Homo sapiens: one gene and its partners. The protein of the gene in region 1 purifies or fractionates together with the protein of each later gene. This does not show direct contact. Each region holds a gene or a part of one and is shown in the gene's direction. Other genes may lie near its edges. The genes, in order: FGB, LETM1, HMGCS1, PYM1, KIF2A, DCPH1 and ETF1.

What was found.
Region 2: the proteins of FGB (region 1) and LETM1 purify together in Homo sapiens (affinity purification with mass spectrometry; 2 studies listed by BioGRID and IntAct, with this or other methods). This does not show direct contact.
Region 3: the proteins of FGB (region 1) and HMGCS1 purify together in Homo sapiens (affinity purification with mass spectrometry; 2 studies listed by BioGRID and IntAct, with this or other methods). This does not show direct contact.
Region 4: the proteins of FGB (region 1) and PYM1 purify together in Homo sapiens (affinity purification with mass spectrometry; 2 studies listed by BioGRID and IntAct, with this or other methods). This does not show direct contact.
Region 5: the proteins of FGB (region 1) and KIF2A purify together in Homo sapiens (affinity purification with mass spectrometry; 2 studies listed by BioGRID and IntAct, with this or other methods). This does not show direct contact.
Region 6: the proteins of FGB (region 1) and DCPH1 purify together in Homo sapiens (affinity purification with mass spectrometry; 2 studies listed by BioGRID and IntAct, with this or other methods). This does not show direct contact.
Region 7: the proteins of FGB (region 1) and ETF1 purify together in Homo sapiens (affinity purification with mass spectrometry; 2 studies listed by BioGRID and IntAct, with this or other methods). This does not show direct contact.

Annotation. Positions count from the first base shown.
Region 1 is NC_000004.12:154,569,511-154,573,010, forward strand, and holds the end of FGB (fibrinogen beta chain isoform 1 preproprotein), read left to right. Parts: intron 1-3; coding exon 4-289; intron 290-908; coding exon 909-1,140; 3' UTR 1,141-3,297; downstream 3,298-3,500. UniProt on the Homo sapiens protein: Cleaved by the protease thrombin to yield monomers which, together with fibrinogen alpha (FGA) and fibrinogen gamma (FGG), polymerize to form an insoluble fibrin matrix. Fibrin has a major function in hemostasis as one of the primary components of blood clots.
Region 2 is NC_000004.12:1,846,157-1,849,656, reverse strand, and holds part of LETM1 (mitochondrial proton/calcium exchanger protein precursor), read left to right. Parts: intron 1-447; coding exon 448-508; intron 509-3,500. UniProt on the Homo sapiens protein: Plays an important role in maintenance of mitochondrial morphology and in mediating either calcium or potassium/proton antiport. Mediates proton-dependent calcium efflux from mitochondrion.
Region 3 is NC_000005.10:43,289,413-43,292,912, reverse strand, and holds part of HMGCS1 (hydroxymethylglutaryl-CoA synthase, cytoplasmic), read left to right. Parts: coding exon 1-65; intron 66-275; coding exon 276-439; intron 440-1,692; coding exon 1,693-1,782; 3' UTR 1,783-3,500. UniProt on the Homo sapiens protein: Catalyzes the condensation of acetyl-CoA with acetoacetyl-CoA to form HMG-CoA, which is converted by HMG-CoA reductase (HMGCR) into mevalonate, a precursor for cholesterol synthesis.
Region 4 is NC_000012.12:55,925,095-55,929,241, reverse strand, and holds the start of PYM1 (partner of Y14 and mago), read left to right. Parts: upstream 1-1,347; 5' UTR 1,348-1,480; coding exon 1,481-1,517; intron 1,518-1,622; exon of another isoform or gene 1,623-1,926; intron 1,927-2,116; exon of another isoform or gene 2,117-2,132; coding exon of another isoform or gene 2,133-2,166; intron 2,167-4,147. UniProt on the Homo sapiens protein: Key regulator of the exon junction complex (EJC), a multiprotein complex that associates immediately upstream of the exon-exon junction on mRNAs and serves as a positional landmark for the intron exon structure of genes and directs post-transcriptional processes in the cytoplasm such as mRNA export, nonsense-mediated mRNA decay (NMD) or translation.
Region 5 is NC_000005.10:62,361,706-62,365,205, forward strand, and holds part of KIF2A (kinesin-like protein KIF2A), read left to right. Parts: intron 1-744; coding exon 745-836; intron 837-1,472; coding exon 1,473-1,615; intron 1,616-1,989; coding exon 1,990-2,194; intron 2,195-3,500. UniProt on the Homo sapiens protein: Plus end-directed microtubule-dependent motor required for normal brain development. May regulate microtubule dynamics during axonal growth. Required for normal progression through mitosis. Required for normal congress of chromosomes at the metaphase plate.
Region 6 is NC_000006.12:151,458,966-151,462,465, forward strand, and holds part of DCPH1 (damage-control phosphatase ARMT1), read left to right. Parts: intron 1-3,500. UniProt on the Homo sapiens protein: Metal-dependent phosphatase that shows phosphatase activity against several substrates, including fructose-1-phosphate and fructose-6-phosphate.
Region 7 is NC_000005.10:138,512,237-138,515,736, reverse strand, and holds part of ETF1 (eukaryotic peptide chain release factor subunit 1), read left to right. Parts: intron 1-2,030; coding exon 2,031-2,169; intron 2,170-2,782; coding exon 2,783-2,973; intron 2,974-3,500. UniProt on the Homo sapiens protein: Component of the eRF1-eRF3-GTP ternary complex, a ternary complex that mediates translation termination in response to the termination codons. The eRF1-eRF3-GTP complex binds to a stop codon in the ribosomal A-site.

The DNA of each region.
Region 1 (3,500 bases):
TAGGTGAATATTGGCTTGGAAATGATAAAATTAGCCAGCTTACCAGGATGGGACCCACAGAACTTTTGATAGAAATGGAGGACTGGAAAGGAGACAAAGTAAAGGCTCACTATGGAGGATTCACTGTACAGAATGAAGCCAACAAATACCAGATCTCAGTGAACAAATACAGAGGAACAGCCGGTAATGCCCTCATGGATGGAGCATCTCAGCTGATGGGAGAAAACAGGACCATGACCATTCACAACGGCATGTTCTTCAGCACGTATGACAGAGACAATGACGGCTGGTATGTGTGGCACTCTTTGCTCCTGCTTTAAAAATCACACTAATATCATTACTCAGAATCATTAACAATATTTTTAATAGCTACCACTTCCTGGGCACTTACTGTCAGCCACTGTCCTAAGCTCTTTATGCATCACTCGAAAGCATTTCAACTATAAGGTAGACATTCTTATTCTCATTTTACAGATGAGATTTAGAGAGATTACGTGATTTGTCCAATGTCACACAACTACCCAGAGATAAAACTAGAATTTGAGCACAGTTACTTTCTGAATAATGAGCATTTAGATAAATACCTATATCTCTATATTCTAAAGTGTGTGTGAAAACTTTCATTTTCATTTCCAGGGTTCTCTGATACTAAGGGTTGTAAAAGCTATTATTCCAGTATAAAGTAACAAACACAGTCCCTAGATGGATTGGCCACAAAGGCCCAGTTATCTCTCTTTCTTGCTATAGGGCACAGGAGGTCTTTGGTGTATTAGTGTGACTCTATGTATAGCACCCAAAGGAAAGACTACTGTGCACACGAGTGTAGCAGTCTTTTATGGGTAATCTGCAAAACGTAACTTGACCACCGTAGTTCTGTTTCTAATAACGCCAAACACATTTTCTTTCAGGTTAACATCAGATCCCAGAAAACAGTGTTCTAAAGAAGACGGTGGTGGATGGTGGTATAATAGATGTCATGCAGCCAATCCAAACGGCAGATACTACTGGGGTGGACAGTACACCTGGGACATGGCAAAGCATGGCACAGATGATGGTGTAGTATGGATGAATTGGAAGGGGTCATGGTACTCAATGAGGAAGATGAGTATGAAGATCAGGCCCTTCTTCCCACAGCAATAGTCCCCAATACGTAGATTTTTGCTCTTCTGTATGTGACAACATTTTTGTACATTATGTTATTGGAATTTTCTTTCATACATTATATTCCTCTAAAACTCTCAAGCAGACGTGAGTGTGACTTTTTGAAAAAAGTATAGGATAAATTACATTAAAATAGCACATGATTTTCTTTTGTTTTCTTCATTTCTCTTGCTCACCAAGAAGTAACAAAAGTATAGTTTTGACAGAGTTGGTGTTCATAATTTCAGTTCTAGTTGATTGCGAGAATTTTCAAATAAGGAAGAGGGGTCTTTTATCCTTGTCGTAGGAAAACCATGACGGAAAGGAAAAACTGATGTTTAAAAGTCCACTTTTAAAACTATATTTATTTATGTAGGATCTGTCAAAGAAAACTTCCAAAAAGATTTATTAATTAAACCAGACTCTGTTGCAATAAGTTAATGTTTTCTTGTTTTGTAATCCACACATTCAATGAGTTAGGCTTTGCACTTGTAAGGAAGGAGAAGCGTTCACAACCTCAAATAGCTAATAAACCGGTCTTGAATATTTGAAGATTTAAAATCTGACTCTAGGACGGGCACGGTGGCTCACGACTATAATCCCAACACTTTGGGAGGCTGAGGCGGGCGGTCACAAGGTCAGGAGTTCAAGACCAGCCTGACCAATATGGTGAAACCCCATCTCTACTAAAAATACAAAAATTAGCCAGGCGTGGTGGCAGGTGCCTGTAGTCCCAGCTACCTGTGAGGTGGAGATTGCATTGAGCCAAGATCTCAACACTGCACTCCAGCCTGGGCAACAGCGTGAGACTCCACCTCAAAAAAAAAAAAAAAAGAATCTGACTATATACCATGGAAAAGCCACCACTCTGCCACTTAAATAAACATCAGGATCAGAGATTCCAAGAGGACAATCTGCATCAAGTCTTCACCAAGTGTTTTTTAAGCGAAATAATGAAATAGGGAGCAGAATATGCCTGTTGCCCATAGAAACGAGGTCTATTCTTGTCCTCAATTAGGCTTTTTTTTCTTCATAGTTACACCAGAACTAAAGTAAAAGTGGTTTTTCTGTTCTTTCTACTTCTCCCCATGAAATGGGCATATCATCTCAACACTTCACTCCAAGTCGCCACGGGCAACCTTATGACCCTAGGTCCTCCACCCCTAATGTATCATCATTGCCACCCATTTTTATGGTACTTATTGTTCTTAAGCTTATCCTCTTAATCTTTTCATGTAAGCAAAGCTCATTAATTTCTGTCTTGGAAATGCTACTACTCTCTTTAATTACTCACCAAATCCAACTTTAACTTTTGACCTGGTTTCTCTGCCACAAGTTCTGTCCCACTGGAGCCCATACTCACCTACCGCTTTGCCATCACATTTAACAGAAAACTCTTATCAACTTACTTCCTGCTTAACATTAGCTCCTTCCTATCTATATCCAAATTTCTTAAATTCAAATTTTTTAGCTGGAGTAAAAATGGTCCCAGTACCATTTCCTGTTCCCTTCACTATAACCTACATTTTTGTCACATTAAGTTTTTCCCCATTCCAGGACAGGTCAGGCCCTTTAAAAATTTCAACAGCTTTATTGAGATATAATTGATATAATTTAAAAAATCCTGCACATGTGTCATGCTGGAGCCCTATTGATTCCAACAGGGATGGCGCCTTGTCCAAGAAGAGACCCAGAGCCAGTGAATGGGACATAGGGTTTATTTAGGACTTAAATACAGATGTGGTCCAGTGGCAGTGGGCTGGACAGGACCGCTACTATTTGTAAAGAGTATGTAGTTTATATAACATTTCTACTTAGCACTCTCCACTTAGCAACCTCCATTTAACCCAAAATAAAAGGCCTTGGTTCCTTGCACATCCTGAGTTCCAACGGACAGGCAGGGAGTTCAAGTGTCCTTCACAGATAAGAAGTGAATCTCTCTGGGTTGGCCATTCCCGGATTCCTTAGCTTAGACTCTGAACACATATTCTTCTTAGACCATACAGTCATTCTCAGGGTATGCTTGAGTTAATGCTGTCGGATGCATCTGTCATACAAAGTGTTTAACATATACGATTTCATGATTTTGGAAATATGCATACACCCATGATATCACTGGCACAGTCAAGATATTAAATATATCCATCACCTCCAAAAGTTTCCTTGTGTTCATTTATTTTAGTTTTTCATGGTAAGAACATTTAATATGAAATATTATCAACAAATTTTTAAGTGCACAATACTGTATTATTAATTTTAGGCATTATGTTGTACAGTAGATCTCTAGAACATATTCATCTACTAAAAATGAAATTTTATCTCCATTTCCCCCTACCTCCCATCCCCTGGCAACTACCATT
Region 2 (3,500 bases), about 150 Mb from region 1:
TGAGCCCAGGAGTTCAAGGCTGCAGGGAGCCGTGACTGTACCACTGCATTCCAGCCTGGGCAAAGTCAAATAAATCAAAATGAACAAAAGGCTGAGCACGGTGGCTCATGCCTGTAATCCCAGCACTTTGGGAGGCCAAGGCGGGCGGATCACCTGAGGTCGGCAGTTTGAGACCAGCCTGGCCAACATGGTGAATGAAACCCTGTCTCTACTAAAAAAAAAAAATTAGCTGGGCATGGTGGTGGGCACCTGTAATTCCAGCTACTCAGGAGGCTGAGGCAGGAGAATCAATTAAACCCAGGAGGTGGAGGTTGCAGTGAGCCGAGATCACGCCATTGCACTCTAGCCTGGGCGCAAGAGCGAAACTCCAAAAACCAACAACAAAAAAAGGTATCAGTATAAATCCCTGATTTACTACTCATTTATTTTCCCCTGTTCCTGTTACAGGTAGTCCAGGGGATCCTGCTCATCTCAGCTGTGCCAGCACCCTGGGGTTGAGGAACTGCCTGTGAGTAAATCAGTATCACTCTGCACCTGTCTGTTTGAAAACAGGGTTTGAAAATGGTGGAGAGTCACGAGTGACTCTTGATTTTTGAGGGAAACAGTGTATCCTACTTTCCTGTTCTTTGTTTCTTTTAAACCTTTATCTTTCCATTTTGAAAATGATTGTCACATGCCTCAGTGAATCTATAGACAGTATAGAAACATTCCTAACCTCAGTGCCCAGTTGCACTTGGAGAGCTGGGGACAGAAGGCTTCCTGTCCCCTAACAGGAATTAAATGGAATTTAATTGTTGGACTCCCAGTTGGAGTGGGCACTGGCAACTGTGCCCTCAAAGTGCCCAGTGTCAGTATTTTGATGTACAGCAAGTCTCATTTAATGTCTGTAGGTTCTTGGAAACTGCGACTTTTTTTTTTTCTTTTTTTTTTTTTTTTTTTTTGAGACAGAGCCTTGCTCTGTCACCCAGACTGGAGTGCAGTGGCACATGCTTGGCTCACTGCAACCTCCGCCTCCCAGGTTCAAGTGATTCTCCTGCTTCAACCTCCCGAGTAGCTGGGATTGCAGGCATGCCTCACTGCGCCTGGCTAATTTTTTTTTTTTTTTTTTTGAGACGGAGTCTCGCTCTGTCACCCAGGCTGGAGTGCAGTGGCGCAATATCAGCTCACTGCAAGATCCACCTCCCGGGTTCATGCCATCCTCCTGCCTCAGCCTCCCAAGTAGCTGGAACTACAGGCGCCCGCCACCACGCCCGGCTAATTTTTTGTATTTTTAGTAGAGATGGGGTTTCACCGTGTTAGCCAGGATGGTCTCAATCTCCTGACCTCGTGATCCGCCCGCCATGGCCTCCCAAAGTGCTGGGATTACAGGCATGAGCCACCGCGTCCGGCCGCACCTGGCTAATTTTTGTATTTTTATTAGAGACGGGGTTTCACCATGTTGGCCAGGCTGGTCTTGAACTCCTGACCTCCCGTGATCTGCCTGCCTTAGCCTCCCAAAGTGCTGGGATTATAGGTGTGAGCCACCATGCCTGGCAGAAACTGCAACTTTAAGGTCCACGAATAACGTTTTATTATAACTTTGGATGAGAAAAGAAATTGGTTTTCTTATGTCTTTTTCCTTAAGGTTGCATTTTCTTTTTTTTTTTTATTTTTATTTTTTTTGAGACAGAGTCTCGCGCTGTCACCAAGCTGGAATGCAGTGGCGTGATCTCTGCCCACTGCAATCTCCACCTCCCGGGTTCAAGCAGTTATCTGCCTCAGCCTCCCAAGTAGCTGGGATTACAGGCGCGCACACCACACCCAGCTAATTTTTTTTTTTTTTTTTTTTTTTTGAGACCGAGTTTTGTTCTTGTCACCTAGGCTAGAGTGCAGTGGTGCAATCTCGGCTCACTGCAACCTCTGCCTCCCGGGTTCAAGCGATTCTCCTGCCTCAGCCTCCCTAGTAGCTGGGATTAGAGACGCCGCCACCACACCCAGCTAATTTTTGCATTTTTAGTACAAAAGTACAAAATTTTCACCACATTAGCCAGGCTCATCTCAAACTCCTGACCTCAGATGATCCACCTACCTCGGCCTCCCAAAGTGCTGGGATTACAGGTGTGAGCCACTGCGCCTAGCTGCTCCCGTTATTTTCTTTAGTGAGTTCTCCAGCAGTTGTTCCTCCCTGGGGACCAGTTCCCCCAAACCTCGTCAGTCTGGACCTTCCTTCTAGATGAGCTGAACCATTTTACTTCTAAAACAGTCTTTTTGGGATTGTATCTGAAGTGTCATTAAACCAGTTGGGAAGGAATATTACTTTTTTTTTTTTTTTTGAGACAGGATCTCATTCTGTTCATTGCCCAGGCTAGAGTGCAGTGGTGCAATCATGGCTCACTGCAGCTTTGATCTCCCAGGCTCAAGCCATTCTCCCACCTTAGCCTCCTGAGTAGCTGGGACTACAGGCATTACCAACATGCCTTGCTAAATTTTTTTCTTTTTGGTATTTTTTGTAGAGACAGGTTCTCACTATGTTGTCCAGGCTGCTCTTGAACTCCTGGACTCAAGCAGTCCTCCTGCCTTTGGCCTCCCAAAGTGCTGGGATTACAGGTGTGAGCCACTGCACCCGGCCTGTTTTCTTTGTATAGGCCACATGCATTGCATTTTAGATAATTCCCAGATGTTTATTATTTTCATTAATTCTTTTCATTATCTTTTCTAAGTGATCATTGCTGTCCCGTAAGTTGCTAAGTTGTACAATTTTCTTGTATCTGGCCCCTTTCCTGTTATTTGTTCAGCTCTTGTAGCAGCCCAGGTTTAGTTTATGGCTGTGATCTTAGTACATAGTAATCATCTGCCTCTTCTTTCCCAGGGCTTCTGCTTCTGAGGTGGTTTCATTTCTTAGCTCAGTAGCCAGATCTGTGTCAGAACAGCTGTAGTCAGTCATGCGGTATCACAATAGCAGAAAATACAGGATCTAGTGTTTGTGACATATGATGTTAGCTTTTGGGTTTAAGTAATCTTTGTTCTGTCTGTTACTCTTTTTATTAGGAATGGATGTTGAATTTGTCAAGCAACTTTTTAGCATTTAAATTTCATACTAAAACATAAATGCTGGCCGGGCACGGTGGCTCACACCTGTAATCCCAACACTTTTGGAGGCTGAGTCGGGAAGATCACGAGGTCAAGAGTTCAAGACCAGCCTAGCCAACATGGTGAAACCCCATCTCTAATAAAAATACAAAAATCAGCTGGGCATGGTGGTATGTTCTTGTAATCCCAGCTACTCAGGAGGCTGAGGCAGGAGAATTGCTTGAACCGGGACCCGGGAGGTGGCAGTTGCAGTGAGCCAAGATGGCGCCACTGTACTCCAGCCTGGGCTAACAACAAAACATAAAAGCTGTACTTTATTCACGTAACTTTTTTTAAAGTTCCCAATTTTGAACATCTACTTAAAAATTTAAACAATGAGGACTGTACAGCTGTTTTGATGGACTTGTCTACTTATCAAGAATTATGGATGA
Region 3 (3,500 bases), on another chromosome or scaffold:
AACTGGTGTGGCACCAGATGTCTTCGCTGAAAACATGAAGCTCAGAGAGGACACCCATCATTTGGGTAAAAATATTAAATGTTCTTTAAGTTAACCCATTTGGAGGGCTGATATCATTAAGGATGCTACATATACGATAAGGATATCAAGACTTTACTCAGTACTAATCTGATGTCAGTGAAAATTATTGGGATATATGAAACTTATCTTTAGCTTTATTACCAGATGAATTGTATATCATAACTAATTGTAGATATTCTCTCCCTTTCCTTTAGTCAACTATATTCCCCAGGGTTCAATAGATTCACTCTTTGAAGGAACGTGGTACTTAGTTAGGGTGGATGAAAAGCACAGAAGAACTTACGCTCGGCGTCCCACTCCAAATGATGACACTTTGGATGAAGGAGTAGGACTTGTGCATTCAAACATAGCAACTGAGGTAAATAAAAGAGTTCCCATCTCCATATCTTAGGGTTTAGGAGACCTAACTGGGATTTAGCAACATAAATAAATGTCAGTAAAGAAGAGTAAGGGCTCTGGGAGTAGATTCTAGCTGTACTATTTCCAATTGTATAAAGTGCTTTGCATTTGAATTATTAATATTTTAAGAATATACAGTAAAGGCCGGGTGCGGTGGCTCACGCCTGTAATCCCAGCACTTTGGGAGACTGAGGCAGGCAGATCACGAGGTCAGGAGATCAAGACCATCCTGTCCAACATGGTGAAACCCTGTCTCTACTAAAAATACAAAAATTAGTTGGGCTTGGTGGCACGTGCCTGTAATTCCAGCTACTCAGGAGGCTGAGTCAGGAGAATGGCTTGAACCAGGGAGTCAGAGGTTGCAGTAAGCTGAGATCACACCACTGCACTCCAGCCTGGCGACAGAGCAAGATTCCATCTCAAAAAAAAAAAAAAAAAAAAAAAAGAATATACAGTAAATACTAGGTTTTATTAATGATACCAGGATTTAAAGGAAGACTGATATAGAGAGAAGGTTCATTTGTGGTGTGTGTCTTTGTGAGAGATGGAGTAGAGGGACAAGGATCCTTTCACATCTCATCCCAGATCATGGTCAAAATCTGTCCTCAAATTGTCAAGAAGTAACAATCATAGCTATGATTTGAATTCCTGTTACCTGCTAGGCACTTTACTTACGTTTTCTTATTTAATCCTTACAACAACCTCCTTGAAGTTTATAAATGATACTGTCCTCCCTTTAGAGATGAGCCTCCAAGAAGTTACATTACTTGCCCAGGATTATAGGTAGTAAGTATTAAAGCCAGGTTATAAACTAAGGACTTTATAACCTTGAAACTACTTATTTATCTGCTTACTACAAGTTTGGTAAATGGATAGTCTTGCTTTTTGCTATTATACAAATTAGGTAGCAAGTCAAACCGCCACTGTTTGAGTTGCAAATACAAGACGTAACAAGTAAAATACTGTTACGTGGTGGGTCTCTGTGGCAGGCTTCCTCTCCCCCCCATATGGATAATTGTATACTAAATTCACCATAAGGTGAAAAATGGATATTGAGTTCCCTTCATGAAAAGTTATATAAAATATATATTTAGCATAAACTTCTCCAGAGTTGTCCTTTATTAAGTTTCTTTACAGAAACTTTAATTGGTGCCATGATTCTTGTGGGGGAAAGAATCATAAGAGCCATCAACTTTTTTCCTTTCATTTTAGCATATTCCAAGCCCTGCCAAGAAAGTACCAAGACTCCCTGCCACAGCAGCAGAACCTGAAGCAGCTGTCATTAGTAATGGGGAACATTAAGATACTCTGTGAGGTGCAAGACTTCAGGGTGGGGTGGGCATGGGGTGGGGGTATGGGAACAGTTGGAGGAATGGGATATCTGGGGATAATTTTAAAGGATTACATGTTATGTAAATTTTTATGTGACTGACATGGAGCCTGGATGACTATCGTGTACTTGGGAAAGTCTCTTTGCTCTATTTGCTGACATGCTTCCTGTTGTGGTCTGGCCAATGCCAAATGTACTCGAATGATGTTAAGGGCTCTGTAAAACTTCATACCTCTTTGGCCATTTGTATGCATGATGTTTGGTTTTTAAACATGGTATAATGAATTGTGTACTTCTGTCAGAAGAAAGCAGAGGTACTAATCTCCAATTAAAAAATTTTTTAACATGTAAGAATTTTGTACTTTGAACAACAAGATTACAGAAAGTACCTGTGGTTTTTGGAAAACATTTCTAGCTTGGGGAATGTGACAACATTCCCCAGTGTGGTAAAATTGGGGTAAAATGTGGTAAAATGTGATACGCACAAACCCTTTGAAAATAGCAAAACAAACATGCCCTTTTTCTAAAATTGATAAATCCTAAAGAGGAAGAAAAGAGCTGGGACAATAAAACACTGGCTCTGGAATCTGGAATGTTAAGTCCAGGCCAGCAGTGACAAAAGTTATTGTAATGACCTCTGAACAGAGAAACACTGCCATTGAAGAGGCTTCTGGTATAGAAAACATGGTACATTCAGGAGCTGTGAATATAGCTCTAGGTGTGCTCCTGAATCAGTTCATGGTAGATTATGCTGAACAACAGTGAGATGTTATTGGAGGTGTGGATGAGGGAGTTTGTTGTTGCAGTCCTTCTTTGCACCTTATTTTAAAGAATAAATGAAACATTTTTCTGGTTACTTTTTTAAAAATTTAAAATGGAAGGGAAGAATAGGGGCAGGGCATTATTAGGCTATTTCTGATGCTTCAGTGTTATAAATTCAACATAGAGGCTGACAACCTAAATTCATGGTGTAACACAGCTCTTTTCCTTTTCCTTTTTTTTTTTTTTTTGGTATCTGTTCAATGAAAATAAGGTATGACCCAAGTTTTTACCTAGTCTGACTAGAAGTATTCCACTTCAAGGTCTGAAGTAGGACTTTTACCTTAAAAAACAACAACAAACAAAACTATCACACAGGATAGATAAGAAGATTGGTTAAACAGTTTTGTGTAGATCTTTTTGGTGCTGAACTATGACATGAGCCTTATAGATTGTAAAATAGGGATAGTTGGAACTAATGTACAGAACTAAATTTTTTAAACTTTATTTGCTGTTAAATTCTGTGAAGTTTCAGTTATCTAAAATAAATATACACAAATATGAAATATAATGTTTCAGATTGCAAGGTAATATGTAATAGTAGTGTTTGTAAGATACTCTTGTCTAATATTAACTAGTAGTATTTTGATTTGTACAGTCATAATTTGTTAAAATGACTTCATTTAACATTCACTGATGTAGATTAATAATGTAAGTTCTGATTTAAAGAATGGTGGCAAAATGGTGCATGTAATACTTTTGCAAGTGTTGGGGAGATCGGTATGTTTTGAAAAGAGTAATTTAACTTTTGGGTGCCAGGAAATGGGTTTTCTCAAAGTCCATTGCCGGCAATGGGCAGGCCTGCAAATACTGGCACAGAGCATTAATCATACACCTTATTAACGGTGAGGTGAATAACTTTGAAATAAAG
Region 4 (4,147 bases), on another chromosome or scaffold:
CAATCGGTGAAAAGAGAGCAAGGGTTTAAGACCACAGTGTCACAACACTTGCAATAACAGTGTATCGTATGCAAATACTTTTTATTTATTTATTTTGAGACTGAGTCTTGCTCTATAATACAAGCTGGAGTGCAGTGGCACGATCTTGGCTCACTGCAACCTCCACCTCCCAGGTTCATTCCTCAGCCTCCCGAGTAGCTGGGATTACAGGCACTCGCCACCACACCCGGCTAATTTTTGTATTTTTAGTAGAGATGGGATTTCACCATGTTGGCCATGGCTGGTCTCGAACTCCTGACCTCAAGTGATCTGCCCACCTGGGCCTCCCAAAGTGCTGGGATTACAGGCATGAGACACCGCACCCGGCCTGGAAATACTTTTTAAATGAGCCCCACCCCCAGACATTCTGAATTGGCCTCTAGTGGAAGTCACAGACATGGAGGATGGGAAGGAAGGCAAGCTGCGGCCCCCAGAAAACTTCTGAGGCCTAATTTGTCTTATAAAGGTCCTAGTCAGCCATTGCTCAGTTTTTTAGTTTTTTTTTTTTTTTTTTTTTTTTTTTTTTGAGACGGGGTCCCACTCTGTCGTCCAAGCTGGAGTGCAGTGGAGCGATCTTGGCTCACTGCAACCTCCGCCTCCCAGATTCAAGAAATTCTCTGCCTCAGCCTCCCGAGTAGCTGAGATTACAGGCACCCGCCACCACGCCCGGCTAATTTTTTTGTATTTTTAGTAGAGACGGGGTTTCGCCATCTTGGCCAGGTTGGTCTTGAACTCCGGACCTCGTGATCCACCCGCCTTGGCCTCCCAAAGTGCTGGGATTACAGGCGTGAGCAACCGCGCCTGGGTTTTGTTTTGTTTTTTAAATGGGACATGCTGCCTAGTGTTGGAGGTAGTCACCAATACTTACCTCCTGCCTCCTCCCTGGTTCCAGGGGTACTGCTGGACATTAAACTAAGCCAAAGTGGGGATATAAGCAGGAAGGTAAAAGGGTTGATAAGGAAAAAGCTATATGAGGGTGGAGGAGGGCAGAGTTGACACCTGAGGAGAGGAACCTGCAGCCGGGCTCCTCTCAGGCTGTAGGGGAAACAAGTTTAACAGGACTTAGCCCTGAAGGAACAACAGTTGCTGAAATGGGCGGCGGAGGGAGACCATATGGGTTCGTCTGCAGAATAGGGAGGTACGGCGCAGGGCAGGACTACAAATGGAGTGACACTACGGGACCGGATTATTGGCGAGTTGCCCCGCTTTAGATCCTCAGCGGTTGGACGAGTTTAATTAGAATACTAAGTAGGTCCGCCCAGAAGCTTTCACCCTGCCCTCTGACCCTAGGGCCCAGCCCGAGGAGGCACTCAGGGTTAGGAGGTCTGGGCGAGAAGCAACTAGGGCCCTCATCACTTCGCCGCCGAATCCCCGGCGCCGCCCAGCGGGGCAGAGCCAGGCCAGGGCCGCCCGCCCAACCTGGTCCGCTGCCTCTTCGGCCATGGAAGCTGCCGGCAGCCCTGCGGCTACGGAGACAGGTGACCGACCCGCGGCGCCCTCCGCCTTGCACGCCCCTCCCGCGGGTCTCTGGTGGTTGAGTGGGTTGGCCGACAGCAATCGGCACACGAATTCGACCTCCCCACCTTCTTAGGGTTAGATAGGGTCTCCAACCGTCCCTAGAAACACTTGTGCGCCCCAGTGCGTTCCTGGAGTTTGTCTGCTCCACGTCACCAAGCCGCTCTGAGATCTGGGTGCAGGCCAGAGCCTGGATATTCTTCCTTTCTTCATTTATAAGGCCCCCTTTTTGGGTGCAGGTGGGCCTTGCGCCCTTTTCCCTCGCAGGTCCTGGACGTACGAGGAGTTCCTGGGGATGAGAGGGACTGTGCCTCGGAACTTCTCTTGGCTCCCTGAGGACTGTTTTACAGGCAGCAAGCGCTCAGTAATGGTATCGGTGGCAGTAAAAAGCCCACGGCTTTATTTTATTAACTATTTCAGCTTCTCCACTCTTCCTCCTCCTCCACCTCCGCCCATGAAATGGTGCACTCTCCCTTTAAGACTAAGATGGTGGCTTGCTACGATCGGGACTCCACTTCCGGTGGGGAGGGGGGCGGGACCCCAGCCCGCTCACGCCGGAAGTGGTTTGCGTTTTCAAGATGGCGACTCCCTATGTTACTGACGAGACCGGCGGTGAGTGCGGGAGGCGCGGAGCCGCTTCTCTCCGGGCTCTCGGGGCAGGGGTTCGGACTTGGAAAGGGGTCTGTGCCCCGCCCATCCCGGGGCCCCTCCTTTGCCCCGCCCCCCGGACCGCCTTCCCCATTCATTCTCTCCTACGGGGTGTCTCCTGCGCCCCCTTCTGGTCTCGTGTTTGGGGTCTCTGCTTCCGGTCACCCAAACCCTGGGGTCCTTCAGTGCTGGTCCCTGCTTCAGGACCCTCACGGGCCCTTAGCTTTTCTCCAGCAGTTGGACCACTCATATCTCTTTTAGGTTCTTCAGGCTTGGGGGCTTCTACACTCTCATTTCCCTCCAGTTCCTGCCCTCCTTCTTTTCCCCTCCCCCATCTCAGCTATACTTGGTTTCTGCCCTACCCCAGTCCCGTTTTCATTATTTTTCTCGAAGCTTTATTTGCTGAAGACCTCCTCGTTTCTACATAGTACCTTTTCCTCTCCCGTATCTTCATTTGTTGGGTCACTGAGGTTTAGAGGTGTGAAGGGAAGAGGACCCTAATACAACTTTCAGCTTGAGTTTTCTCCCTGATGGAGCCACCCTTCGCTACCTTCTCCCGTGATGGTGATAGAAATTGAGGGGTCTAAGGTGGGAAAAGGCAAACAGGAAAGTATCTAGTGGCTTTTCTCCGAAGCCCTTTGACAAGTGAATAAAACCCACTATTCCTTCTGGCTAGAGAAGAATTTGCAGCCTGGCTGGCCGAGATGCTGAAGTGTCTGCTGTGTATGTAAGGTGTATGTGTTGGAAACGGAGAATCACAGCTTTTATCATGGTTTTGTCCCTTCCTAATGGCCTCATCTTTAGGAAAATATGCATAGTAGTAATAGCTACTCAATGATGATCAAATAATATATGTAAAAGCAATTTATAAAATACTGTGCAAGTGCAAAGTGTTTCTGTTTTTGTAGCCCTCATATGTGTAGTCTGTAGTCTGTAGAAGCAACAGTGTGCCTGTGCCTTGGTACACACGGTGTTTTAAAATGTGCCATTTTGCTTCTTGCTCTGCTGCTTTCCATGTTCCTTACACCTCAGCCCACCTATTTTATGGTATCTGATGACAACCCAGGTTGCTGCTACTTCTCCCCAACCTCACAATTTAAAGTGGTACTACCTCTTTCCTTCTGTTCTCTACCCAGTAGCTCCTTCATGAATTACCAACTTTTAATGTGTGTTTTGAAAATACTACTTATCCAGTATACTTCTCTTTACTCTTAATCATTTTCTTTACCCTGACTCCGTGAAAATCCAGGTATCACATCTTACCTTACCTTGTCACTAAAAGCTGTTTTCTGTTTTCCGTGACTATGTGGAAGAGAAAAAGGAATAAACTGCTTTTTTGTTTTCCTTTACTATGTCCAGATCATTGATCTACCACTGTCACTCTAATCCTCATGGAAGGTATTGCCATGCAATTATAGCAGTTTCTGTAAAACTTTAGTGTCATCATTTACTGCCCACAGGGACCCAGACCTATTGCATCATATTTTTTTCTCTCCTTTTTTTCTTGCTATCATTTTCAGTGTCTCCAGCACCATTGGAATATTCTGATTTCATAGTTCCTCAGCATGAGACGGTCGACTTTCCTTTGTATTTTCAAACCAGTTGCACATCAGAATCACTACAACCTGGATCTCATCTAGGACACCGCTTTTTCTTCAGCTGCTCCCCATCACTTTAGCCTCCTTACCAGTCACCTATTTCACTATCTTAAACCCACAGGATCAGCTTTTTGTCCTCAAGTTCTCTGGTTCTTGACCTTCCCATTTCATTGAATCTGTCAGTACCTTATGGCCTTTGGTGCTGCCCAGCTAGACCTCTGTGACCAGCCACTTTGATAATATCCTCTTGCTTTCTTTATTCATTTTGATTTTCTATACTAAGCAGGCACTTCTGTTGTCTCTAATGATGGGTATGATTAGAGATGTTTTCTTGGCTTCCGCTTCTA
Region 5 (3,500 bases), on another chromosome or scaffold:
AATTTTTTTTTTTTTTAAGAAGACAAGAACTGTAGGCTGGGTGTGGTGGTTCATGCCTGTAATCCCTGCACTTTGGGAGGCCAAGGTGGGTGGATCACTTGAGGTCAGGAGTTCGAGACCAGCCTGGCCAACATGGTGAAACTCCATCTCTACTAAAAATACAAAAAAAAACTTAGCCAGGCGTGGTGGCGGGCGCCTGTAATCCCAGCTACTCAGGAGGCTGAGGCAGAATTGTTTGATCATTTGAACCCAGGAAGCAGAGGTTGCAGTGAGCCAAGATCATGCCACTACACTTCAGCCTGGGCAACAGACCAAGACCCCATCTCAAAAAAAAAAAAAAGAACTGTAAGATTGATTTTGAGGGGGCAGAAATCTTGATTATATTTGTCAGTGCATTCTAGCACATTGTTGGAGATGAGTCTCAATTGTTGAATTTCTGAACTGTAAAAAGCTACTAGCTATGGTATAAGAATAACCTCATTATGACCACCTATAATTTTATGCTATTTATAAATATAAATATTAATATATATAAATAAAAGTAGCACCCTTTTATGGCATATGAAAGAGAATAGCTTCTATTAATACTATTTTTTGTAAAATTAATATTCACTTTCTCATTTTTATTATTGATACTGTTATCCTAGGTAAAGAGTAACTGATTCCTCTAGAAATAGAAAATTTGAGTTGCTTTTTAAAAATATTTGTTGGATCTCAATTTTCTGTATATGAAATTTTTGACAGCTCGAGATGTCTTTTTAATGCTAAAGAAGCCAAACTATAAGAAGCTAGAACTTCAAGTATATGCAACCTTCTTTGAAATTTATAGTGGAAAGGTAAGTGGGAACTTTTTTAATTTTAATTTTTTAAAATATATATATAACATAACATTTGCCATTTTAACCATTTTTAAGTTCAGTGGCATTAAATATATTCACATTGTTGTGCAGCGTTTACCACCATAATTTATGTGTATTTAGAACTTTTATATTAGAATTTATGTTATGAGATTTTTTTAAAAAGTCCTTTGAAACTTTTCAACTTCAGTGTTGAGAATTCTTATTCCAATTATTATTTTAATCTCTGAAATAATTCTTAAACTCTGGGTGACTCATTTTTATAGAACTGATATTTTAATTGCCACAGGATCTCGCTGTGTCACCCATGCTGGAGTGCAGTGGCATGATCACAGCTAACTGTAGCTTCAATCTCCTGAGCTCAAGTGAGCTTCCCGCCTCAGCTTTCCTAGTAGCTGCGACTATAGGCATGCACCACCATGCCCAGCTAATTTGTTTTATTTTTAGCAGAGACAAGGTCTCACTATGTTGCCCAGGCTGGTTTTGAACTCCTGAGCTCAAGCCATCCTCCTGCCTCAGCCTCCCAAAATGCTGGGATTACAGGCGTGAGCCATTGCACCTAGCCTGTTTTTTACTTTAAAGCTAGTTTTCTAATTTGAATATGGTTTTTCATAGGTGTTTGACTTGCTAAACAGGAAAACAAAATTAAGAGTTCTAGAAGATGGAAAACAGCAGGTTCAAGTGGTGGGATTACAGGAACGGGAGGTCAAATGTGTTGAAGATGTACTGAAACTCATTGACATAGGCAACAGTTGCAGGTAAATCTCATTTTGATTAAGAAAGGAAACATCAGTTTTAGAAACTTTGGGTACAGTATAACAAAATGAGGATGTTATCTATCAATACATCTTGGAAGTAAAAATCATTGTTCATAAAAACTTGTGTTACATGTAAATGTGAGTGACAATTATTATATTGATACTACATTACAAATATATTAGAAATATGCCGGATTAAATTGTATGAATCTGGTTCTATTTAAGTGTTATAACTCAGTGTCTCATCTGTATTTAAAAGATGAAAACTAGCTAAATCGATGTTTTTGCTGCTGTTGTTTTTAATGAAAATAATGTGGTTTGAACATGTAAATTGAAGTTTTTAATGTATCAAGATGTCCTTAATCACATTGTAGAACATCCGGTCAAACATCTGCAAATGCACATTCATCTCGGAGCCATGCAGTGTTTCAGATTATTCTTAGAAGGAAAGGAAAACTACATGGCAAATTTTCTCTCATTGATTTGGCTGGAAATGAAAGAGGAGCTGATACTTCCAGTGCGGACAGGCAAACTAGGCTTGAAGGTGCTGAAATTAATAAAAGCCTTTTAGCACTCAAGGTAAATAAAATGTATTTTATCATGAAAGGTCTTTTACTTTTGACTTTAATTTTCTTTACTCAGTTGCAAAATAGTAGTACTTGTTTTACCTAATAAAAAGAGGTTTTCAAAATTCAGATGCTTGTAATGTATAGTGTGATTTTATTATACCCAGATTTTTTCCTTGCACACATTCTTTATTCTTTTTAGATGGGATAAAGGATATGTGAGTTAGTAGGTCAGTTCTGGGGCTACATAGGTAAACTCCAGAGGTTTTTTTTTTTTTTGAGACTGTGTCTTGCTCTTTCGCCCAGGCTGGAGTGCAGTGACACAATCTCGGCTCACCGCAACCTCCACCTCCTGGGTTCAAGCCATTCTCCTGCCTCAGCCTCTCCAGGAGCTGGGATTACAGGCACGCACCACCACACCCAGCTAATTTTTGTATTTTTAGTAGATATGGGGTTTCACCATGTTGGCTAGGCTGGTCTTGAACTTCTGACCTCGTGATCTACCCACCTCAGCCTTCCAAAGTGCTGGGATTACAGGCGTGAGCCACCGCGCCCGGCCCAGAGGGTCTTAATTAGTCATATTTTCTAGGAGGAGGGCAACGAACCACTGAATTGAGCTAAGAAACAGTTTCTCAGAAAAATGTGGAATGGCTTTCAAAATGTTAGGCCAGGTTATTACATCTTTTCCTTGAGTAGAACACCAAAGGTTGGAAAGACTAAAATAAGGCATTCTGTGTTTTTTTCTTTTGGAGTGCCATGTTAAGAAATTAACTTTTTACAGTTATCCTACTGCCTGTCACTTTCAAACACTAGTCATAGTTTCCAGAAATATCTGTTGGAAGAATAAAGTAGGTTTTTTTGCTGTCATTTTTTATTTTCTTGAATTAGCATTTATGGGAACATCTACACTATGCTTTAAAACTGTTGGCCAGGCGCAGTGGCTCACGTCTGTAATCCCAGCACTTTGGGAGGCCGAGGCGGGTGGATCCCCTGAGGTCAGGAGTTCGATACCAGCCTGGTCAGCATGGTGAAACCCCATCTCTACTAAAAATAAAAAACAGCCAGTCGTGGTAGCAGGCGCCTGTTATCCCAGCTACTTGGGAGGCTGGGGTAGGAGAATCGCCTGAAGCCTGGAGACAAAGGTTGTAGTGAGCCAAGATTGCGCCACCACACCCCAGCCTGGGTGACAGAGCGAGACTTTGTCTCAAAAAAAAAATAAAACTGTTAGTAGAATTTTCAAAACTGATCAGACCCTTAAATGTTCAAGTTGTAGTAAGAGACCTTTTAAAATATGTTAATTAAGATTATCCTTTATAAGA
Region 6 (3,500 bases), on another chromosome or scaffold:
GTCTCTACTAAAAATAAAAAAATTAGCGAGGCATGGTGGCACGGGCCTGTAATCCCAGGTACCTGGGAGGCTGAGGAATGGGAATTGCTTGAACCTGGGAGGCAGAGGTTGCAGTGTGCCAAAATTGCACCACTGCACTGCAGCCTGAGCACCGGAGTGAAACTCTGTCTCAATAAAATAGATAAATAAAGCGTGAATTAATTAAAGATTCCAACAAAGACTTCTAGAATAAAAGAAGTTTTGCTTATTGAGTAAAAAATGTAAATTTGAAATAGTTACATTTATATAAATAAGGATGGGACAAAGTAAGCATATGTTTTGTTTATTGAAATAGATAATAAACGTTACAACTTACTTGGTTTAAGGAGTCATGAGAACAGTGAATCATACTATTGTATTATAGTCTTAATCTTTCATCTTTTTTTAAAAAGGCTAGTTTAGAAAAAGATTTTAAAAGTACACATGTTTCAAAGTAACTTTTTCTAGGCTTGTTTATATTATTTAATTTTTCCTAGGAAAACATCTGATAGAGAACTAGTTTTTAGACCAGGCGTGGTGGCTCATGCCTGGAATCCCAACACTTTGGGAGGCTAAGGCAGGTGGATCACTCGAGGTCAGGAATTTGAGACCAGCCTGGTGAGCGTGGCGAAACCCCGTCTCTACAAAAAATATATAATTACCCAGGTGTGGTGGCACATGCCTGTTGTCCCAGCTACCCCGGAGGCTGAGGCATGAGAATCACTTGAACCTGGGAGGCGGAGGTTCCAGTAGCCAAGATTACACCACCGCACTCCAGCCTGGGCGACAGAGCGAGACTGTTTAAAAAAACCAAAAAACAAAAAACTGTTATTTATAGTGCCAAAGAAAAGTTAATGGGGATGATTGGATTATCCTTAATAAGCACAGGTTCCAAAAATACAGGTTTGTTAAGAGGAATCCTTTGGTATCTGTTCCTAAACATAGCATAGGACAATTTAAAGTGACCTATCAAGTCAGCACTAATTGTAAAATAAAATTATTTTGGGAAACATATGGAACTTTAAAATCTGTTCATTAGCTTTTTTGTCTTAATCTTACACACACACGTATATATTTTGTTGTTGTTGTTGTTCTTGTTGTTGTTTGTTTGTTTAAGATGGAGTCTCGCTCTGTCGCCCAGGCTGGAGTACAGTGGCGCGATCTTGGCTTACTACAACCTCTGCCTTCCGGGTTCAAGCAGTTCTCTTGCCTCAGCCTCCCGAGTAGCTGGGATTACAGGCACCTCCCACCATGCCTGGCTAACTTTTTTTGTTTTTGTATTTTTTGTAGAGATGGGGTTTCGTTATGTTGGCCAGGCTGGCCTTGAACTCCTGACCTCGAACTCCTGACCTCAGGTGATCTGCCCTCCTCGTCCTCCCAAAGTGCTGGGATTACAGGCATGAGCCACCACGCCCAGCCTATATATTTTTTTTTCATATCACAATTTGTTGTTTTTTCTGATAGGTAGGTTTTAGAACTTCTGATCTAAAAGCAAAATACACTATTAAAACTCTGGTGCAGGCCGGGTGCGGTGGCTCACACCTGTAATCCCAGCACTTTGGGAGGCCGAGGCAGGCAGATCAAAAGGTCAAGAGGTCGAGACCATCCTGGCCAACATGCTGAAACCCCGTCTCTACTAAAAATACAAAAATTAGCTGGGCGCGGTGGTGCGCACCTGTAGTCCCAGCTACTCAGGAGGCTGAGGCAGGAGAATCACTTGAACCCAGGAGGCGGAGGTTGCAGTGAGCCGAAATCACACCACTGCACTCCAGCCTGGGTGAAAGAGCAAGACTCTGTCTCAAAAAAAAAACAAAAAAACAACAAAAAAAACTCCGGTGCACTGCTTGGCATGGAGAAGGCACCCCAGCAGAACAGCAGAAGATGTAAGGAGCTGTCAGTAACTAGCAATGTTCTAGTGACTGTGCAACCCAGTGAAATGTAGGCGTTGTTATGGTTTCCATTTTAACAGTTTAGGTGATTGGGCTCAGAGAGATTTCTAACATGCCCAAGGTGACATGGCTAGTAGGTGGTGGAACCAGGATTTGAGCCTGGTCTGTGTGAATCAGATTAGTGTCCTTATTCAGCCATTCTTCCCAAATAGTAGATTTAGATGCCTGTCAAGGACTGAGAGTAGTCTGAAATTCGGGGTGATGGTTTCCTAATTTTGGAAAATATCTGTGGTAGGAGCCAAAGCTGCCAAAGTGTTGAAAGACTGGGTGGCATCTTGAGTGGGGTTGGTGGAGTTTGTGTGTTTAAGGCAAGAGGAATGCTGTTTCTGAGTTTGATTTTAGAGGTTGATCAGGTTCAGAGACTAAAAATACCTAGAGCAGATTTTCACAAACCTGGCTGCACATTTATGACCCAGTTGGGGAAAAGGAAGGTGGCTTCAAAAATGCGTATTTTTAGGCCAGGCACAGTGGCTTACGCCTGTGATCTCAGCACTTTGGGAGCCTGAGGCAGGTGGATCTCCCGAGGTCAGGAGTGTGAGATCAGCCTGGCCAACATGGTGAAACCCTGTCTCTACTAAAAATACAAAAATTAGTCAGGCATGGTAATGGGCACCTGTAATCCCAGCTACTCAGGAGGCTGAGGCAGGAGAATCACTTGAACCCAGGAGGTGGAGGTTGCAGTGAGCCGAGATTGTGCCGTTGTACTCCAGCCTGGGCGACAAGAGCGAAACTCCGTCTCAAAAAAAACACCACATAGTTTTAGATTATTGTGTTGGAATAAATACAAATTGCTTAATTTATCTGGGGTGGGGCCTGGGTATCAGTTTTTCTTTCGGAAGCTCAGGGAGTGATGATATCCACTGGTTCAGCGAACAGATTGTTAAATGGGATAGAGGGAACATGCATCTTTAAGTTCAAGAAACTAGAATGTTGCACAATCACGGATGTAGAACTCTTCCCAAAGCGGTTTCTGTGGCAGATAAAGAGCCATCTTACAATGGAGCCAGCACTGAAGTAATTCTTAAATGTCTAATTTTTAGGTTCTTCTATGGGGGATCCCTATCCTAGGTCAATGGCAACTCCAGACTGACCAGCTTTTATAAAAGACATGTTTATATTGATTTACCATTTTACACTGAAACATGCAATAGTCTGCCAGTCTAAATTAAGATTCAAAGTTTTAGCCATATGTGAAATTTAAACATATTAGGTAAATACACTTCAGATATTGAAAGATGAAAGTACAGAGAAAATATTAGATTTTTAGAAAAACTTTTTAATAAAGTGTAATATACATATAGAAAAATGTGCATGTCTTATGTGTTCAAGAACATACTTGTGTACCCAGTGCCCAGATCAAGAGACGGAACCTTACAGACCCCAAAAGTCCACTTTGAGTCCCTTTCCAGTCACTGCCTTCATTACTCCTCAAGGATAACCATTGTTCTGACCTGTGTTAGTTTTGCCTGTTTTTTAACTTTACTGAAATGAAATGATACAGTGTATAGTTTTGTGTCTGGCTTCTTTCACTCA
Region 7 (3,500 bases), on another chromosome or scaffold:
CAGTGCCAGGTACCCATGTTGTCTGGCTTTTGCTCACTTACTGAGTTAGCCTTGTTGGCTTTTTTCCAAACCTTAACTCCTTTTCTAAGATACTGTTTAATCTTGCTAACTTTGTACATTTTAGCTTTAACTGAGAGGGTTATATCCTGTTTATCAGGGTAATTATATATTCTAATAAGGGATATGCCTATTCCCTGATAAGCAGATTTATTAAAAACTTCAATCTACCTAACGGGTCATTTTGATAAGGCTATATTATTAACGTGCAATATTCATATTCATGTCTTTTTTCTTTTTCTTTTTCTTTTTTCTGAGATTGAGTTTTGCTCTGTTGCCCAGGCTGGAGTGCAATGGCACGATCTCGGCTCCTTGCAACTTCCACCTCCCGAATTCAAGTGATTGTCCTGCCTCAGCCTCCTGAGTAGCTGGGATTACAAGTGTGCACCACCACGCCCAACTAATTTTTGTATTTTTAGTAGATGAGATTTCACCATGTTGGCTAGGCTGGTCTGAAACTCCTGACCTCGAGTGATCCACCCACCTTGGCCTCTCAAAGTGCCATTGCAGGCATGAGCCACCACGCCCGGCCACAATATTCATGTCTTAATGCCAACTATCTAGCATGGTTTGTTAAAGATGGATTCTTAGTTGATCCATCTGCTTTCTAGTCAATTATTGAAGGGGCTATTTTCTTAAAATGGAATGGTAAGGCCAGGTGTTGTGGCTCACACCTATGTAATCCCAGCACTTTGGGAGGCCAAAGAGGAGGATCAGTTTATAAAAATAAAATGGAATGGGTAACAATTTCTTACTTCCAAAGAGATTGTCCCCTGGCAATTAGAGATCAACTAAGTGTGTAGTATTCCGATTCCACTGTGAGAACTCTTATCTATGTATGTCCCAGGACTGTTTCAATATTTTCTCTTTGGGAAGGCATAAAGGGATATAAAGTTAACATAGAAGGAAGGTTTTCCTCATAAAACTCAGAATCATTAGCTGCAATACCTTTAAAGACATGCTGGCTCATGCCTGTAACCCCGGCACTTTGGGAGGCTAAGGCAGAAGGATCATTTGAGTCCAAGACTTCGAGGCTGCAGTGAGCTATGATGGCTACTGCACTCCAGCCTGGCCAGCAAAGTGAGACCCTGTCTCAAAAAAAAAAAAAAAAGGAACAAGTTAAAGTTTTTTTGTTTTTTGAGACAAGGTCTCTGGATCACCCAGGCTGGAGTACACTGGCACAATCTTGGCTCACTGCAACCTACACCTCCCAGACTAAAGCCTTTCCAAGTAGCTGGTAGGGACTACAGGCACGTGTCACCACAGCCACCTAATTTTTGTATTTTTTTGTAGAGACAGTGTTTCGCTATGTTGCCCAGGCCAGTCTCAAACTCCTGAGCTCAAGCCATCTGCCTGCCACAGCCTCCCATAGTGCTGGGATTACATGTGTGAGCCATCATACCCAGCTTAGAACTCTATATTATAAAACTGAAACTGTATCCATTGAGCAATAATTCCTTGTTCCCCCTTTTTTCCAGCCCCTGGCAACCACCATTTGACTTTTTGTCTCTGATTTTGATTACTCCAGGAACCTCATATAAGTGGAGTCATACAGTATTTGTCCTTTTTTGACAGGGTTATTTCACTTAGCATGTATTCAAGTTTCATCCCTGTTGTAGTGTGTTTCAAAATTTTCTTCCTTTTTGAGATTGAGTAGTATTAACTGCTGTATGTAATATTGCTATAAACATGGGCATACAGATATCTTTCTGGTTTTATATTTACATGCCCATGTCAAATGTGTTGAAAAGCTTCACATAGATATCATTCGTTATTTCCTTATTGGGTTCAAATTTGTCCATAAGAGTTACATGTTTATAACTGAAGTCTATAAATTATTCCGTAGAAGGTTTTCCCACAGTGCTAATAGCATGGTGAGTGGAGTGAAAGGGCTTGTATATATCCTTTCAGAGTTTTTTTGACCTTAGCAAAGCTTTGGGATTCACCGTGTGGTACTTGTGTTTGCTTTTCAGGCTCTTACAGCACTACTTTCAGATGATAGCAAGTTTGGATTCATTGTAATAGATGGTAGTGGTGCACTTTTTGGCACACTCCAAGGAAACACAAGAGAAGTCCTGCACAAATTCACTGTGGATCTCCCAAAGAAACACGGTAATACAGGAGGAGAACATGAACCCACTTACTTTGTGTCTAGCAATAAGAAAACAGTATGGTGGGCCGGGTGCGGTGGCTCACGCCTGTAATCCCAGCACTTTGGGAGGCCGAGCCGGGTGGATCACGAAGTCAGAAGTTCGAGACCAGCCCGGCCCTGTCTCTACTAAAAATACAAAAATGTGACGGGCGCCTGTAATCCCAGCTACTTGTGAGGCTGAGGCAGGAGAATTGCTTGAACCCGGGAGACGGAGGTTGCATTGAGCCAAGATTGCGCCACTGCACTCCAGTCTGGGCGACAGAGTGAGACTCTGTCTCAAAAAAGAGAGAGAGAGAAAACAGTATGATGTGAGGGGAGTGAATCCAGATGATGGGGAGAGAAGCCTCCTGTAATGACTGGTGCCTCATTGGTACTTACAGCTCCTCTCTTGACATAGACTTAGTAGTCGCTCTCTGAAAACAAGTAGCAGTTTATGCTGAACGTTTAGTTAAGGGAATGGTGATTTTTCTTTGTCCTTTTCTTAGATGATGACATGATTATTTTATTTTTAATTTGAAGACATCTTGTAGTTCTTAATAATTGCCTTTTTCTCTTGCTACTTTTGTGTCAAAGGTAGAGGAGGTCAGTCAGCCTTGCGTTTTGCCCGTTTAAGAATGGAAAAGCGACATAACTATGTTCGGAAAGTAGCAGAGACTGCTGTGCAGCTGTTTATTTCTGGGGACAAAGTGAATGTGGCTGGTCTAGTTTTAGCTGGATCCGCTGACTTTAAAACTGAACTAAGTCAATCTGATATGTTTGATCAGGTAAGTAAGAAGTAGATGCTTTATTATGTAAGACCCTAGGTAGGAGTAGGTGAGTCCTCTGTGTGAGCACTGGAACAGACACATCTTTTTAAAATTCCTTGGGTTAAAAACTTGCCTCTGAGTTAAACAGCAGGTTTACAGATGTTTATCAGGAAACATTCCCCTGTGCTTTTCTGAACCCCTTCTCTTCTGAAATCAACCATTTTTAGGTGGGCTTCTTATGGATCCTGTGGAGGTTCCTTGTTTAGTTGGGTTGTCAGAATTGGCTGTAGAATGGAGTTTGATTTCAAAGAAACTAAAACCTGTTCCTTATTTTCTTTTTCTGATTTATTCTTGGAGATACATAGCAGCAAAGCTCTCAGCAGTATGACAGCTGATTCAGCCTAAAGCATTTAAAGCACATTTTATAACATGGGCTCAGCCATAATACACTTTCAAGATCTGGAGGAAGTAGCCTTATGGTAGAAGGTCCACCAAAGAAATTGCCTTTAAAAAAAAAAAAAAATATATATATATATATATATATA